Linked DNA regions of Homo sapiens. The protein of the gene in region 2 interacts with the protein of the main gene of each other region in a pairwise test. Each region holds a gene or a part of one and is shown on either strand. Other genes may lie near its edges.

Region 1 (7,370 bases), on a different chromosome or scaffold from region 2:
GCGAAATGCTATCGTGACAGAGCACTCCATTACCTAGGAGGCATGACACCCGAGTGGGTACATCAGGCAAGCATGGTATCAGAGGGCATGTTAGCAGGTCTCATACTTGGTGGGTATGTTAGCAGGCAGGCATGTATCCAGAAGACCCCATACCCACTGGGTATGTTAGCAAGAAGGCATGGTACCTAGTAGGCACAATACCTGGTGGGTATATCAGCAAGCAGGCAGGGTGCCCAGGCAGGCCTGATACCCAGTGGGTATGTTGGCAGGTGAGCATGGTATGGAGGCTGGACTGATTGATAGATGGTGGGTATGTTGGCAGGTGAGCATGGTATGGAGGCTGGACTGATAGATGGTGGGTATAAGCAGGTAGGCATGGTACCCAGGCAGGCCTGATACCAGTGGGTATGTTAGCAGGTAGACTGGTATCCAGCAGGGATGATGCGTGGTTGGTATGTTAGCAGGCAGGCATGGTATCCAAGTGGGCATGATAAGCAGGCATCATACCACAATAAGCTTGATGATACCCTAAGCAGGCATGATACCCGGTGGGTATGTTGGCAGGTGGGCATGGTACACAGGCTGGACTGATAGCTGGTGGGTATAAGCAGATGGGCATGGTACCCAGGCAAGCCTGGTACCTGCATAGGCATGTTAGCAGGCAGGCATGGTACCCAAGTGGGCAAGATACTCATGCAGGCATGATGACCCAACAAGCTTGATGATACCCCAGCAGGCATGCTACCTGGGTGGGCGTGTTAGCCGGCTAGGCATTTAGGCAGACAGCGGCTGAGCGCATGGCCACAGAACTGCTGGGCAATTCTGGGCTCAGCGGAAACCGCATGGGGCAGAGGGCAGGAGAGCCTCGCCCAGGGCGCGTCTAAAGCTCTATGTGTGTGCGTCCCACCGCTGCTTCTCACTGATGCCATCTCAAAGGCCTAGTGACCTTGCAGGTTGTCTATTTCAACCCTTTCATCCTACACAAAGCAGCTGAGGCCCAGAAAGGTGAGGTGCAGTGCCCAGGGCCACACACTGGGCAGCAGGAAACAGGGACAGGCCGCTGAACTCCTACAACCACACCAAGCTTCTTCCCCCTGCTCTGGAGTAGAGGACACTGGGGGCACCACAGGAGAGGCTGGTGGGAACCCCCAGACCAACACTTTCCCCAGCTCCCTCAGAGGCAATGTGGTCCATGGATGGACAGAGGAGGCTGGGCACCTTCCAGTTGGGCTTCCATCCTCCACCCCACAGTACCCACAGGTGTGAGCACATGGCAGCCACGTAAACCTGGAGGGAGAGCGGGATGGGCTGTGCTCCGTACCCGCAGGCCAGGAAGAAAGCTGCCCTTCTCCAAACCCAGAGTGTCTCGGCACTTGGCTGTGGGCCTGCTATGGTCTGAACTGTGTCCTCCCAGAATTCATATGCTGAAGCCCTAACGTCAACATCACTGTATCTGGAGACAGGGTCCTTAATTAAGGGTAAATGAATCATAAGGATGAGATCCTGATCTGACAGGACTGTGGACTTAAAGGAAAAGAAAGAGAGGGCCGGGTGCAGTGTTTCATGCCCGTAAGCCCAGCACCCGGGAGGCCAAGGCAGGAAGATTGCTTGAGCCCAGGAGTTCGAGACCAGTCTGGGCAACACAGTGAGACCTTGTCTCTACAAAAAATACAAAAATTAGCCAGGCATGGTGATGTGCACTTGAGGTCCCAGCTACTTGGGAGGCTGAGGCAGGAGGATCGCTTGAGCCTGGGAGATTGAGGCTGCAGTGAGCTGTGATTGTGCTACTGTGCTCCAGCCTGGGTGACAGAGTGAGACCCTGTCTCACAAAAAAAAAAAAAAAAAAAAAAAAAGGAAAGAAAGGAAAAAGAAAGGAAAAGGAAGTGAGACCACCCCCATCCGCTTGTCATGTGAGGAAACAGTGAGAGGGTGACCACCTGTAAGCCGAAAGTGGACCCTCACTGGAACCCAACCAAGCTGGCACCCTGACCTTGGATTTTCAGCCCACAGAACTGTGAGAAATACATTTCTGTTTAAGCCGATCCATGGCAGTCCGTGCTAAGAAAGGCCCTAGCCCAGGGGCCGCATAGCCTGGACTCTGACAGCCTCCTGTAGGAATTCTGATCCGCAGGTGAGGGTCCATGCAGATTCTCTGCTGTGTTTCTGGGAGGCGAGGAGTTGGCAGGAGAGCTGTTTATGTTACAGTGAGCCGAACCCCCGCCCAGAGACCACAAAATTAATCAGAAAGAGGGCAACTGGCAGGGCGCCAGACCTCAGAAGGGGAAAGAATCGCAGGCCTTGGGTTTGGCCTTGTCACTTGTCATGAGCCAGAGCCTTGATTACCTAAACCGGAAGTCTTGTGAGCAGCACGGTGCTTGCTCTGGAGGAACCTGGGGTTTCTGAGAGGGACTGGGGTTGGGGGAGACGGTGGTGGGTGGGTGGTGGAGGGCTGTGCCCTTGGGATAAGGGAAAAGACAGCTGAGACACAGGCTCTGGGGTCGGAAATGAGAGCCAGGAGGGCACCCTGTCTGCAGTCTCTGGGGACCGGAGCACCAGCCCCTCCTCTGGGATCCCCTCCCAAGAGGGATTTGAGATCCGTGGACCCCTGAGCCCTGGCTGGGCAGGGTCAGAGGAGGGTGGGACAGGCGGCACGAGGTAAGTGTAGGGGTGCTGGATGCTGGGGCTCACTCCTCCAGCCTTTGCTGCCCTCTCTGGGGAGACACCCGTGAAGAGTCTGGGGGCGGCACAGAGAGGAGGACGAGAGGGAATGGCAGCGGGGGATACAAGGGCAGGGCACACTAGGGTCAGCATTGACCACGGGTGGGGAGGAGGCCAGTGGCCACTTCCCCGGGCCACCGCAGGTGGGCGTGGGGGGGCGGCGCCGGCACTCACCGAGGAGCAGCAGTGCGTTCCGGGGACGCGCCCGGCAGAGCCCCAGGACTAGCAGCAGCGCGCAGCAGGCGGGCACGGGGCAGCTCATGGCGGCGGCGGCTCGGACTCGGGATCGGGATCCGGCTCCGGCTCTCTGGTCTCCCGCTCGGCCCCGCCCCCTGCCCCGACCCCGGTCACGTGCGCGCCAGACCCCGCCCCGGCCTGTCCCCGGCGATTCCTGCGGACCCAGCTGCGGCGACGCCAGGAGACCCCAAGCTGCATCGCCGAGTGGGTGAGTCCGTGGCCCGCGAGGGCGGCGAGCGGGGACCAGGGGCAGGGGGAGCGGACAGTGGCCGGGGTCGCCGGGGGCAGCCGACGCGGGGGCCAGCGCGGAGTCCTGAAGTGCGGGGGCCTCCCGTGGGGACCACTCCCCCGCCGCGTCCCTACCCGGGTCCCCGCGGCCCTCGGCCTTGCTCGGGGCCAAGGGACCGCGGACGGTCAGGTGGCGCAGGGTCTCCTCCGGAGACCCCAGGATCCGGAGCCAGCGGCCTTGTGGGCGGGGCCGGGGGCCGGGGAGTGGATTTTGCCCGGAGCGGAGCGGCCGGGGGCGTGGGGGGCTGGGGGTGAGGGTGGCGGCTCTGCGCGCGGGCGCCGGGGCCCTGGAAGATGCTGCGCACCTGAATTAACCGGGCGCCTCTGATGTCCTCCCAGAAGCAACTAGAACTCCAGGGCTGTGAAAGCCACAGGTGGGGGCTGAGCGAGGCGTGGCCTCAGGAGCGGAGGACCCCCCCACTCTCCCTCGAGCGCCGCAGTCCACCGTAGCGGGTGGAGCCCGCCTTGGTGCGCAGTTGGAAAACCTCGGAGCCCCGCTGGATCTCCTGGCTGCCACCCGCACCCCCCGCCAGCCTACGGTGCGCCCGCGGGCCCAGCTTCTCTCTGCGCTGCTCCCCGTTAAATTCCCTGGGGAGACGGAAAAAAAGGCAAAGGAAGTCGGTTCTCCAGGGGCCAGAAGTGTTGAGCCTAATTAGTCTTCAGACTTCTCAATGAGGAATCGCTTATCAGTTTCTTATCTGGGAGAGTTGAGGATGGAGGGACAGAAGGCACCCAGGATTTGCACGGGGGGGATTCAGGGAGAGAGGGTGATGAGGGACGGGGTGGGCCTTCCAGTCTTGGCCCAGTCCCCATCTTGCACACATTGTTGGCTTCCTCTTAGAGCCGTTCGCCCCCCTGGGGAGGGGAGACCCATAGTGACCTCTCCTGACACCCGCCGACCCTGACCAGTGTTGCCGGGTTCTTCAAAGGCCACGCTCTGACTGCTGGTCTGTGTCACCTGCACCCCCCAGCCCCACCGTAGAGATGCCTTCTTCGGTGACGGCGCTGGGTCAGGCCAGGTCCTCTGGCCCCGGGATGGCCCCGAGCGCCTGCTGCTGCTCCCCTGCGGCCCTGCAGAGGAGGCTGCCCATCCTGGCGTGGCTGCCCAGCTACTCCCTGCAGTGGCTGAAGATGGATTTCGTCGCCGGCCTCTCAGTTGGCCTCACTGCCATTCCCCAGGCGCTGGCCTATGCTGAAGTGGCTGGACTCCCGCCCCAGGTGAGGCGTCTGACCCTGCTGCCAGCCATATCTCAGAAACAGTGCAGAATACACAGTATCAATCCCAGACACCATCAGCGATTCCAGGTTTCCAGCCCCTGGGCCCCAAGGAACCTTTGGTTTACAGTGTGTGACGCAGATTGTCTCTGGGCCGACCCAGGCTCCTATGCCTGTTTGGCACACACAGACACTGAGCTGGTTATGGAGGGGCCAGCGAGATGACTCATGGAGGCCTCAGGAGTTCAAGACCAGCCCGACCAAAATGGTGAAACCCCGTCTCCACTAAAAATACAAAAATTAGGCTGGGTGCGGTGGCTCAAGCCTGTAATCCCAGCACTTTGGGAGGCCGAGGCAGGCGGATCGCAAGGTCAGGAGATGGAGACCATCCTGGCTAACAGGGTGAAACCCCGTCTCTACTAAAAATACAAAAAATTAGCCAGGTGTGGTGGCGGGTGCCTGTAGTCCCAGCTACCTGGGAGGCTGAGGCAGGAGAATGGCGTGAACCCGGGAGGCGGAGCTTGCAGTGAGCCGAGACTGTGCCACTGCCCTCCAGCCTGGGCGACAGAGCGAGACTCCATCTCAAAAAAAAAAAAAAAGAATGCTTCCTCAGACTTGGACACAGCACACGGGCCTGCACCGACCCCTCTGCCTGGCTGTCTGCACCCTGAGGCCCCAGTTGAGTGCTGCTAAAAAAGTGGCCTCCTGATCACTGCAGGTCCACCCACAGGGCAGGGCGGTGCACCTTTAACCTGGGCCTGGACACAGCTGACACCCACACATCCCGAGCTTGGACACGCACACTAGGGAGCTGGTGGATGGGCCTCGGCCTCCTGAGTGCTCACCACCCTCTCTCCCCACAGTATGGCCTCTACTCTGCCTTCATGGGCTGCTTCGTGTATTTCTTCCTGGGCACCTCCCGGGATGTGACTCTGGGCCCCACCGCCATTATGTCCCTCCTGGTCTCCTTCTACACCTTCCATGAGCCCGCCTACGCTGTGCTGCTGGCCTTCCTGTCCGGCTGCATCCAGCTGGCCATGGGGGTCCTGCGTTTGGGTGAGGCTCTACCTTCTTGCCAAGGGGATGCCCTCGACCTCAGCATTTGCTTGTTTGCATTTCAAGTCTATCCCCGTGTGCGTGTGTGTGCGTGTTGGGGTGTGGGTATGTATGTGTGTGTGTGTAGGTGGGTGGGTGGTGGAGGGGGTGGGGCACTTGGCTCTTAGTCTACTCTTTTCTGCTTAGAGGCCAGGACACTTGGAGAAGTGCCTGTGGCCTCAGACCCCAGTCTCCCTTTTCTGCTCTCCAAAAACAGCCAAACAGGGTGTGTTACCCCCAGTCCTTAGCTGCGGTATCTGCTCCCCAATCCCACCCATTGCCACCTTCCCCAGCTCACATCTCCCCTCATCCTCTGGGACTGGGTGGAGCCGGGACCAGCTCGATGTCCCCTCTTGGCTGGCCAGGGTTCCTGCTGGACTTCATTTCCTACCCCGTCATTAAAGGCTTCACCTCTGCTGCTGCCGTCACCATCGGCTTTGGACAGATCAAGGTAGGCACGGCGCCCACCCAGGGCACTGCTCTTTGGCCACTGCTCGTTGGCACAGGGATGGCGGGAGCAGGACTGAGGCCAGTCCTGATCCCTGTGGCCAGTGGACGTCTTGCTGTTTCAGATTGTCTTCCATGGGTCAAGAAGCACGCGGTGCTCTCATGGGTCCCCTGTTAATAAAATGACCCTCCTGGGAGGGATGTCACGTGATGGTTGGATTTCACAGCGGGTAACTTGGGGGCCGGTAATTCCATCCCCCTGCTCTTGCCCGAGTTTCCGTGCCAGTGTGCTTGGCTGGCTCTGTGACGTGGCTCTGTTCTCCCTGCACTGGGCACACCCAGCAGGCCCCACCAGTCATGAGCATGCTGCTAGAATTTCTATAGGCAAATTATTTCCCCATGCCAATTTAGTTAGATGGTTTTGTTTTGTGCTTTTTTTTCTGGTTTCTGTTTAATATTTTTTAAATGCCATGCCTTTTATATTTTCTTTTAAAACATTTATAATAAGTACTAAAATCAGTCATCAGCTGAGGGTGTAATTTATTCTGTTTTTGCTGGGTTGTAAGTTCCTCGAGGGTAGGAACTGTCCTTCTCCCAGCCATGGCCGCCCAGCATTGGGCTGGTGCAGTAGGGGGGTGCTCAGTGGGGTGTGTGTGGAGTGAAGTGAGCCCAATTCCACAGATGGGACCATGCGGCCCTCATGGCAGACTAGGGTCACATGCTGCCTCCTGACCCTGTGTCACTGCAGGTCATCTTCCCCAAGCCAGGCCCTGTTCCAGGCTGGCCTGAGACAGTCTTCCCTGATGGAGGTACCATGAGAAGACCAAGGACAGGAGAGTGTGTGTGAGAGTGTGTATGAGTGTGTGTGAGTGTGTGAATGAGTGAGTGTGTGAGAGTGTGAGTGGGTTTGAGGGAGTGTGTGAGTGTGTGCGTGTGTGAGTGAGTGCGTGTGTGAGTGAGTGTGCGTGTGTGTGTGAGAGAGTGTGAGTGTGTATGAGTGAGAGTGTGAGAGTGGGTGTGGGTGTGAGGGAGTGTGAGTGCGCGCGCGCGTGTGTGAGTGTATGAGTGTGAGAGTGAGTGTGAGTGAGTGAGAGTGGGTGTGGGTGTGAGAGTGTGAGTGTGAGAGTGTGAGTGTGTGAGTGTGAGAATAAAGTAGACACTTTTTGCACTCTTGCTACGTGCGAGGCACTGGGCAGGACACTCTCCATGTGTAATTCTCAACACACCCCGGGAGGTAGATTTATCATTATTTCCATTTGAGAGAGGAGGGACCAACTTAGGTGTGGGTGAGCGTGATTTGTACGTTATCTACACGCATCTCTCAGGGTTAGCTTGGCAAATGCTGTTTCAGGGCATGGTTGGTTCTTTAA
Region 2 (5,734 bases):
AATCTCGAACTCCTGACCTTGAGTGATCTACCCACCTTGGCCTCCCAAAGTGCTGGGGTTACAGGTGTGAGCCACTGGGCCTGGCCTACATGACTGCTTTTCAAGGGAATTGTTTTAACATGTTAAGAGGCTAAGCACAAAAGTAGCATTCAAGTGTTGGTTAGACACTTTTGAATATTATTTGATTTAAACATTTCTTTCAAATGGCATGCAAGAAATGGCTTAGGGGTTCTCAGGACTGAGGAATCAGGATGGGAACTTGATAACAGGGACCTTAGGTTGAAAGCTATTGTTCTAAAACAAGGTGCTTTCCCGGCATGGGAAGCAAATGCTGGGTTTTACAAGACCACAAGTGAGGCAGTGCCTTTGACTTGGCATTATCTACTGTGGCAACAAGCAGCAAGGTCATGATAGGGTTACTGGTGGAATAGCCTTGCTTTTTGGAACAAAAATTCCCACAAATTACCCACATATCAAAGTTATCCATTAGCTAACAAACATGAACGTTTTCTAGCAAATAAAACACGCATATCACAAAGTCCTCTCTTTAAAAGAAAACATAAAGAAGAGAAAGAGAAAAGAAGCTGATGACGGTGAAGCCTGATTTAGCAGATACGTTTATTCAACACAGTGCATGATTCAAAGCATCGGATATTCCACAGCCAACAAGGTTTCCTATTCCCTATTACAAAATACCGGATACCCTGAATATAGCTCATTCAAGGTCCTCGTTCCTTTTTCCCTATATCTAGAATTAAACAGGTTTCCCCGTTTAGCGCACATTTCACGTTCGCTGAAGGCTTTGGGGAGAGGGGGAAACAGAGCTTATGACTGCCCCTCTGAACCAAAGGCACTTAATGTTAAAAGATAAAGCACAGTAGAGTCACCCCACAGACATTCCTATGTGTTCAACGGCTGAACTTCAGCATACCATCACCGGCCCCATGTGGGATTCATCATAACAACGTAAAAGACACTGATTTCCTTGGAAAAACAAAGTGCAGTACGAATATAAAGGAGTCACCACACCCCTCTTCCGAAAATAATACATAAGAGAACTCTTACTTTACATGATTAGTATCACTCAAGGTTCACACATGGAAAAAATAGCTAAAAAATAATCTATAATAAATTCTCACTATGAAGTCACAATAGAATCTGATACCCTTTTTAGAACTGGTGAGTTGGAGAGACACCCAGAGGTCATGCTGTCCATCCCTTCATTTGATAGGGGAGGGCACTTGAGGCCCAGGAAGGTCAAGCGTCGGACCTGGGGTCTAACCCCTGTGGCAGAGCCTGCGTAGGACGCGGGCCTCCTGAAGCCTAGCTCAGGGTTCCCTCCACTCCCCTTCCTCTTTAAAGACTCTCAAAAGTAAAATATGGTGATGATCTCCAAAGATGCACCACACCATAAAGCACATGCACTGACCCAGGTCAGCAATTTGGTCTCACAAGGCGGTTCCTTTGGCCATTGGGCAGGTATGTAACCCACCTCAGGGTGGGAATTCTTTGCATGGGATCGTTCAAAGTTCTGAGAAAAGCCCAATGTAGGTCAGACACGACTGCTCCTTGGACTGGGGAAGACTTTCCTTGGTTGTCAGTCCATAGTGGGCAGGCGGTCGGCTGCACAGCGGAATCCCAGATTCGAAGCAGAGCTATCAGGTGTGTTCTGGCTCCGAGCAGCACAGCGATACCTGTAACAATAAGACTGTGTAGAGAGAAAGAGCAAGGTAAGTGCTACTGGGACTCTCAGCTGAAGGCTCTAACCCATCAGATGCATATTGCACCGGCTGTAGACAGTGCTTCCCCACAACCCTGCCTGTATGGATACTTAACATGTATGCTTTAAAAAGGGCAGCACATTCAAGAACTAACCACATATTTTCCAACGTCCTTCACCTTATAAATGTAACACGGATATAGTACAAAGATGTTCAGCATTAGATATAACAGCAAAAAAGAAAAATGTAACAACCAATGATTGCCTAAGTTTAGGCACATCCATATAATAGAAAAGTAAGCAGCCATTGAAAGTCATGTCTTTACATAGTATTTAATGACACAGGAAGTTTTCATGATAAAATGTTAAATGAGGCCAGGCGCACTGGCTCACACCTGTAATCCCAACATTTTGGGAGGCTGAAATGGGAGAACTGTTTGAGGCCAGGAGCTCGAGGCCAGCCTGGGCAACACAGCAAGATCCCATCTCTACAAAAAATTAGCTGAGCATGGTGGTGTGCACTTGTAGTCACAGCTACTCTAGAGGTTGAAGTGGGAAGATCTCTTGAGCCTGGGTGTTTGAGGCTGCAGTACACCATCACTGAGCCACTGTACTAAAGCCTGGGTGACAGAGCAAGATCTTGTGTCCAAAAAAAGAAAAAAAAACAGTTAAAATGAAAAAGGCAGAATATAAAGGTGTATATGTGGTATGACCACAGTGTAGATAACTACATGTGCCAAGAAGAAAAGACTGGAAGATTCCGAATGCACCACAATGTGCACAGTAGTTATCCCTCAAGCAATCTGAGTTTCATGTTTCCTATATGAAACCTATTCAGTATTCCAATACAATAAGAATATATATTAATTTTTGAAATTAAACCAAGTAATAAGTGATAGATGGCCACTGAAAAAATACTAAGAACAACACTAAGACACCATTTAATACCTAAATAATATTTATGATATTATTTATTATCTAAATCATATTTATGATATCATTTAATGCCAGTAGATCGGCAAAAAATTAAACAACAAGTCTAGGAACATCAAACATAGGAAAGGCTGTGGGACAACATTGCTTTTTAAAAATACATTGCTCTTCCATTTCTTTGTATCCTCTTTTATTTCATTGAGCAGTGGTTTGTAGTTCTCCTTGAAGAGGTCCTTCACGTCCCTTGTAAGGTGGATTCCTAGGTATTTTATTCTCTTTGAAGTAATTGTGAATGGGAGTTCACTCATGATTTGGCTCTCTGTTTGTCTGTTATTGGTGTATAAGATTGCTTGTGATTTTTGTACATTGATTTCGTATCCTGAGACGTTGCTGAAGTTGCTTATCAGCTTAAGGAGACTTTGGGCTGACACAATGGGGTTTTCTAGATATACAATCATGTCATCTGCAAACAGGGACAATTTGACTTCCTCTTTTCCTAATTGAATACCCTTTATTTCCTTCTCCTGCCTAATCGCCCTGGCCAGAACTTCCAACACTATGTTGAATAGGAGTGGTGAGAGAGGGCATCCCTGTCTTGTGCCAGTTTTCAAAGGGAATGCTTCCAGTTTTTGCCCATTCAGTGTGATATTGGCTGTGGGTCTGTCATAGATAGCTCTTATTATTTTGAGATACATCCCATCAATACCTAATTTATTGAGAGTTTTTAGCATGAAGGGTTGTTGAATTGTGTCAAAGGCCTTTTCTGCATCTATTGAGATAATCATGTGGTTTTTGTCTTTGGTTCTGTTTATATGCTGGATTACATTTATTCATTTGCGTATATTGAACCAGACTTGCATCCCAGGGATGAAGCCCACTTGATCATGGTGGATAAGCTTTTTGATGTGCTGCTGGATTCGGTTTGCCAGTATTTTATTGAGGATTTTTGCATCAATGTTCATCAAGGATATTGGTCTAAAATTCTCTTTCTTGGTTGAGTCTCTGCCCGGCTTTGGTATCAGGATGATGCTGGCCTCATCAAATGAGTTAGGGAGGATTCCCTCTTTTTCTATTGATTGGAATAGTTTCAGAAGGAATGGTACCAGTTCCTCCTTGTACCTGTGGTAGAATTCGGCTGTGAATCCATCTGGTCCTGGACTCTTTTTGGTTGGTAAGCTATTGATTATTGCCACAATTTCAGAGCCTGTTATTGGTCTATTCAGAGATTCAACTTCTTCCTGGTTTAGTCTTGGGAGAGTGTATGTGTCGAGGAATTTATCCATTTCTTCTAGATTTTCTAGTTTATTTGTGTAGAGGTGTTTGTAGTATTCTCTGATGGTAGTTTGTATTTCTGTGGGATCGGTGGTGATATCCCCTTTATCATTTTTTATTGGGTCTATTTGATTCTTCTCTCTTTTCTTCTTTATTAGTCTTGCTAGCGGTCTATCAATTTTGTTGATCCTTTCAAAAAACCAGCTCCTGGATTCATTAATTTTTTGAAGGGTTTTTTGTGTCTCTATTTCCTTCAGTTCTGCTCTGATTTTAGTTATTTCTTGCCTTCTGCTAGCTTTTGAATGTGTTTGCTCTTGCTTTTCTGGTTCTTTTAATTGTGATGTTAGGGTATCAATTTTGGATCTTTCCTGCTTTCTCTTGTGGGCATTTAGTGCTATAAATTTCCCTCTACACACTGCTTTGAATGTGTCCCAGAGATTCTGGTATGTTGTGTCTTTGTTCTTGTTGGTTTCAAAGAACATCTTTATTTCTGCCTTCATTTCATTATGTACCCAGTAGTCATTTTTGTTCAGTTTCCATGTAGTTGAGCGGTTTTGAGTGAGTTTCTTAATCCTGAGTTCTAGTTTGATTGCACTGTGGTCTGAGAGACAGTTTGTTATAATTTCTGTTCTTTTACATTTGCTGAGGAGAGCTTTACTTCCAACTATGTGGTCAATTTTGGAATAGGTGTGGTGTGGTGCTGAAAAAAATGTATATTCTGTTGATTTGGGGTGGAGAGTTCTGTAGATGTCTATTAGGTCTGCTTGGTGCAGAGCTGAGTTCAATTCCTGGATATCCTTGTTAACTTTCTGTCTCGTTGATCTGTCTAATGTTGACAGTGGGGTGTTAAAGTCTCCCATTATTATTGTGTGGGAGTCTAAGTCTCTTTGTAGGTCACTCAGGATTTGCTTTATGAATCTGGGTGCTTCTGTATTGGGTGCATATATATTTAGGATAGTTAGCTCTTGTTGTTGAATTGATCCCTTTATCATTATGTAATGGCCTTCTTTGTCTCTTTTGATCTTTGTTGGTTTAAAGTCTGTTTTATCAGAGACTAGGATTGCAACCCCTGCCTTTTTTTGTTTTCCGTTTGCTTGGTAGATCTTCCTCCATCCTTTTATTTTGAGCCTATGTGTGTCTCTGCACGTGAGATGGGTTTCCTGAATACAGCACACTGATGGGTCTTGACTCTTTATCCAATTTGCCAGTCTGTGTCTTTTAATTGGAGCATTTAGTCCATTTACATTTAAAGTTAATATTGTTATGTGTGAATTTGATCCTGTCATTATGATGTTAGCTGGTGATTTTGCTCGTTAGTTGATGCAGTTTCTTCCTAGTCTCGATGGTCTTTACAATTTGGCATGATTTTGCAGTGGCTGGTACCGGTTGTTCCTTTCCATATTTAGTGTTTCCTTCAGGAGCTCTTTTAGGGCAGGCCTGGTAGCAACAAAATCTCTCAGCATTTGCTTGTCTGTAAAGTATCTTATTTCTCCTTCACTTATGAAGCTTAGTTTGGCTGGATATGAAATTCTGGGTTGAAAATTCTTTTCTTTAAGAATGTTGAATATTGGCCCCCACTCTCTTCTGGCTTGTAGAGTTTCTGCCGAGAGATCCGCTGTTAGTCTGATGGGCTTCCCTTCGTGGGTAACCCGACCTTTCTCTCTGGCTGCCCTTAGCATTTTTTCCTTCATTTCAACTTTGGTGAATCTGATAATTATGTGTCTTGGAGTTGCTCTTCTCGAGGAGTATCTTTGTGGTGTTCTCTGTATTTCCTGAATCTGAATGTTGGCCTGCCTTGTTAGATTGGGG

The links.
Region 1: the proteins of SUMF1 (region 2) and SGSH interact in binary tests that used the Homo sapiens proteins (3 or more experiments, as listed by UniProt).

The regions. Positions count from the first base shown.
Region 1 is NC_000017.11:80,217,334-80,224,703, forward strand, and holds the start of SGSH (N-sulphoglucosamine sulphohydrolase isoform 1 precursor), read right to left. Parts: upstream 3,001-7,370; 5' UTR 2,981-3,000; coding exon 2,893-2,980; intron 1-2,892. Other genes in the region: SLC26A11 (sodium-independent sulfate anion transporter), read left to right, coding at 4,228-4,461, 5,322-5,514, 5,847-6,004. UniProt on the Homo sapiens protein: Catalyzes a step in lysosomal heparan sulfate degradation.
Region 2 is NC_000003.12:4,360,547-4,366,280, forward strand, and holds the end of SUMF1 (formylglycine-generating enzyme isoform 1 precursor), read right to left. Parts: intron 1,709-5,734; coding exon 1,598-1,708; 3' UTR 600-1,597; downstream 1-599.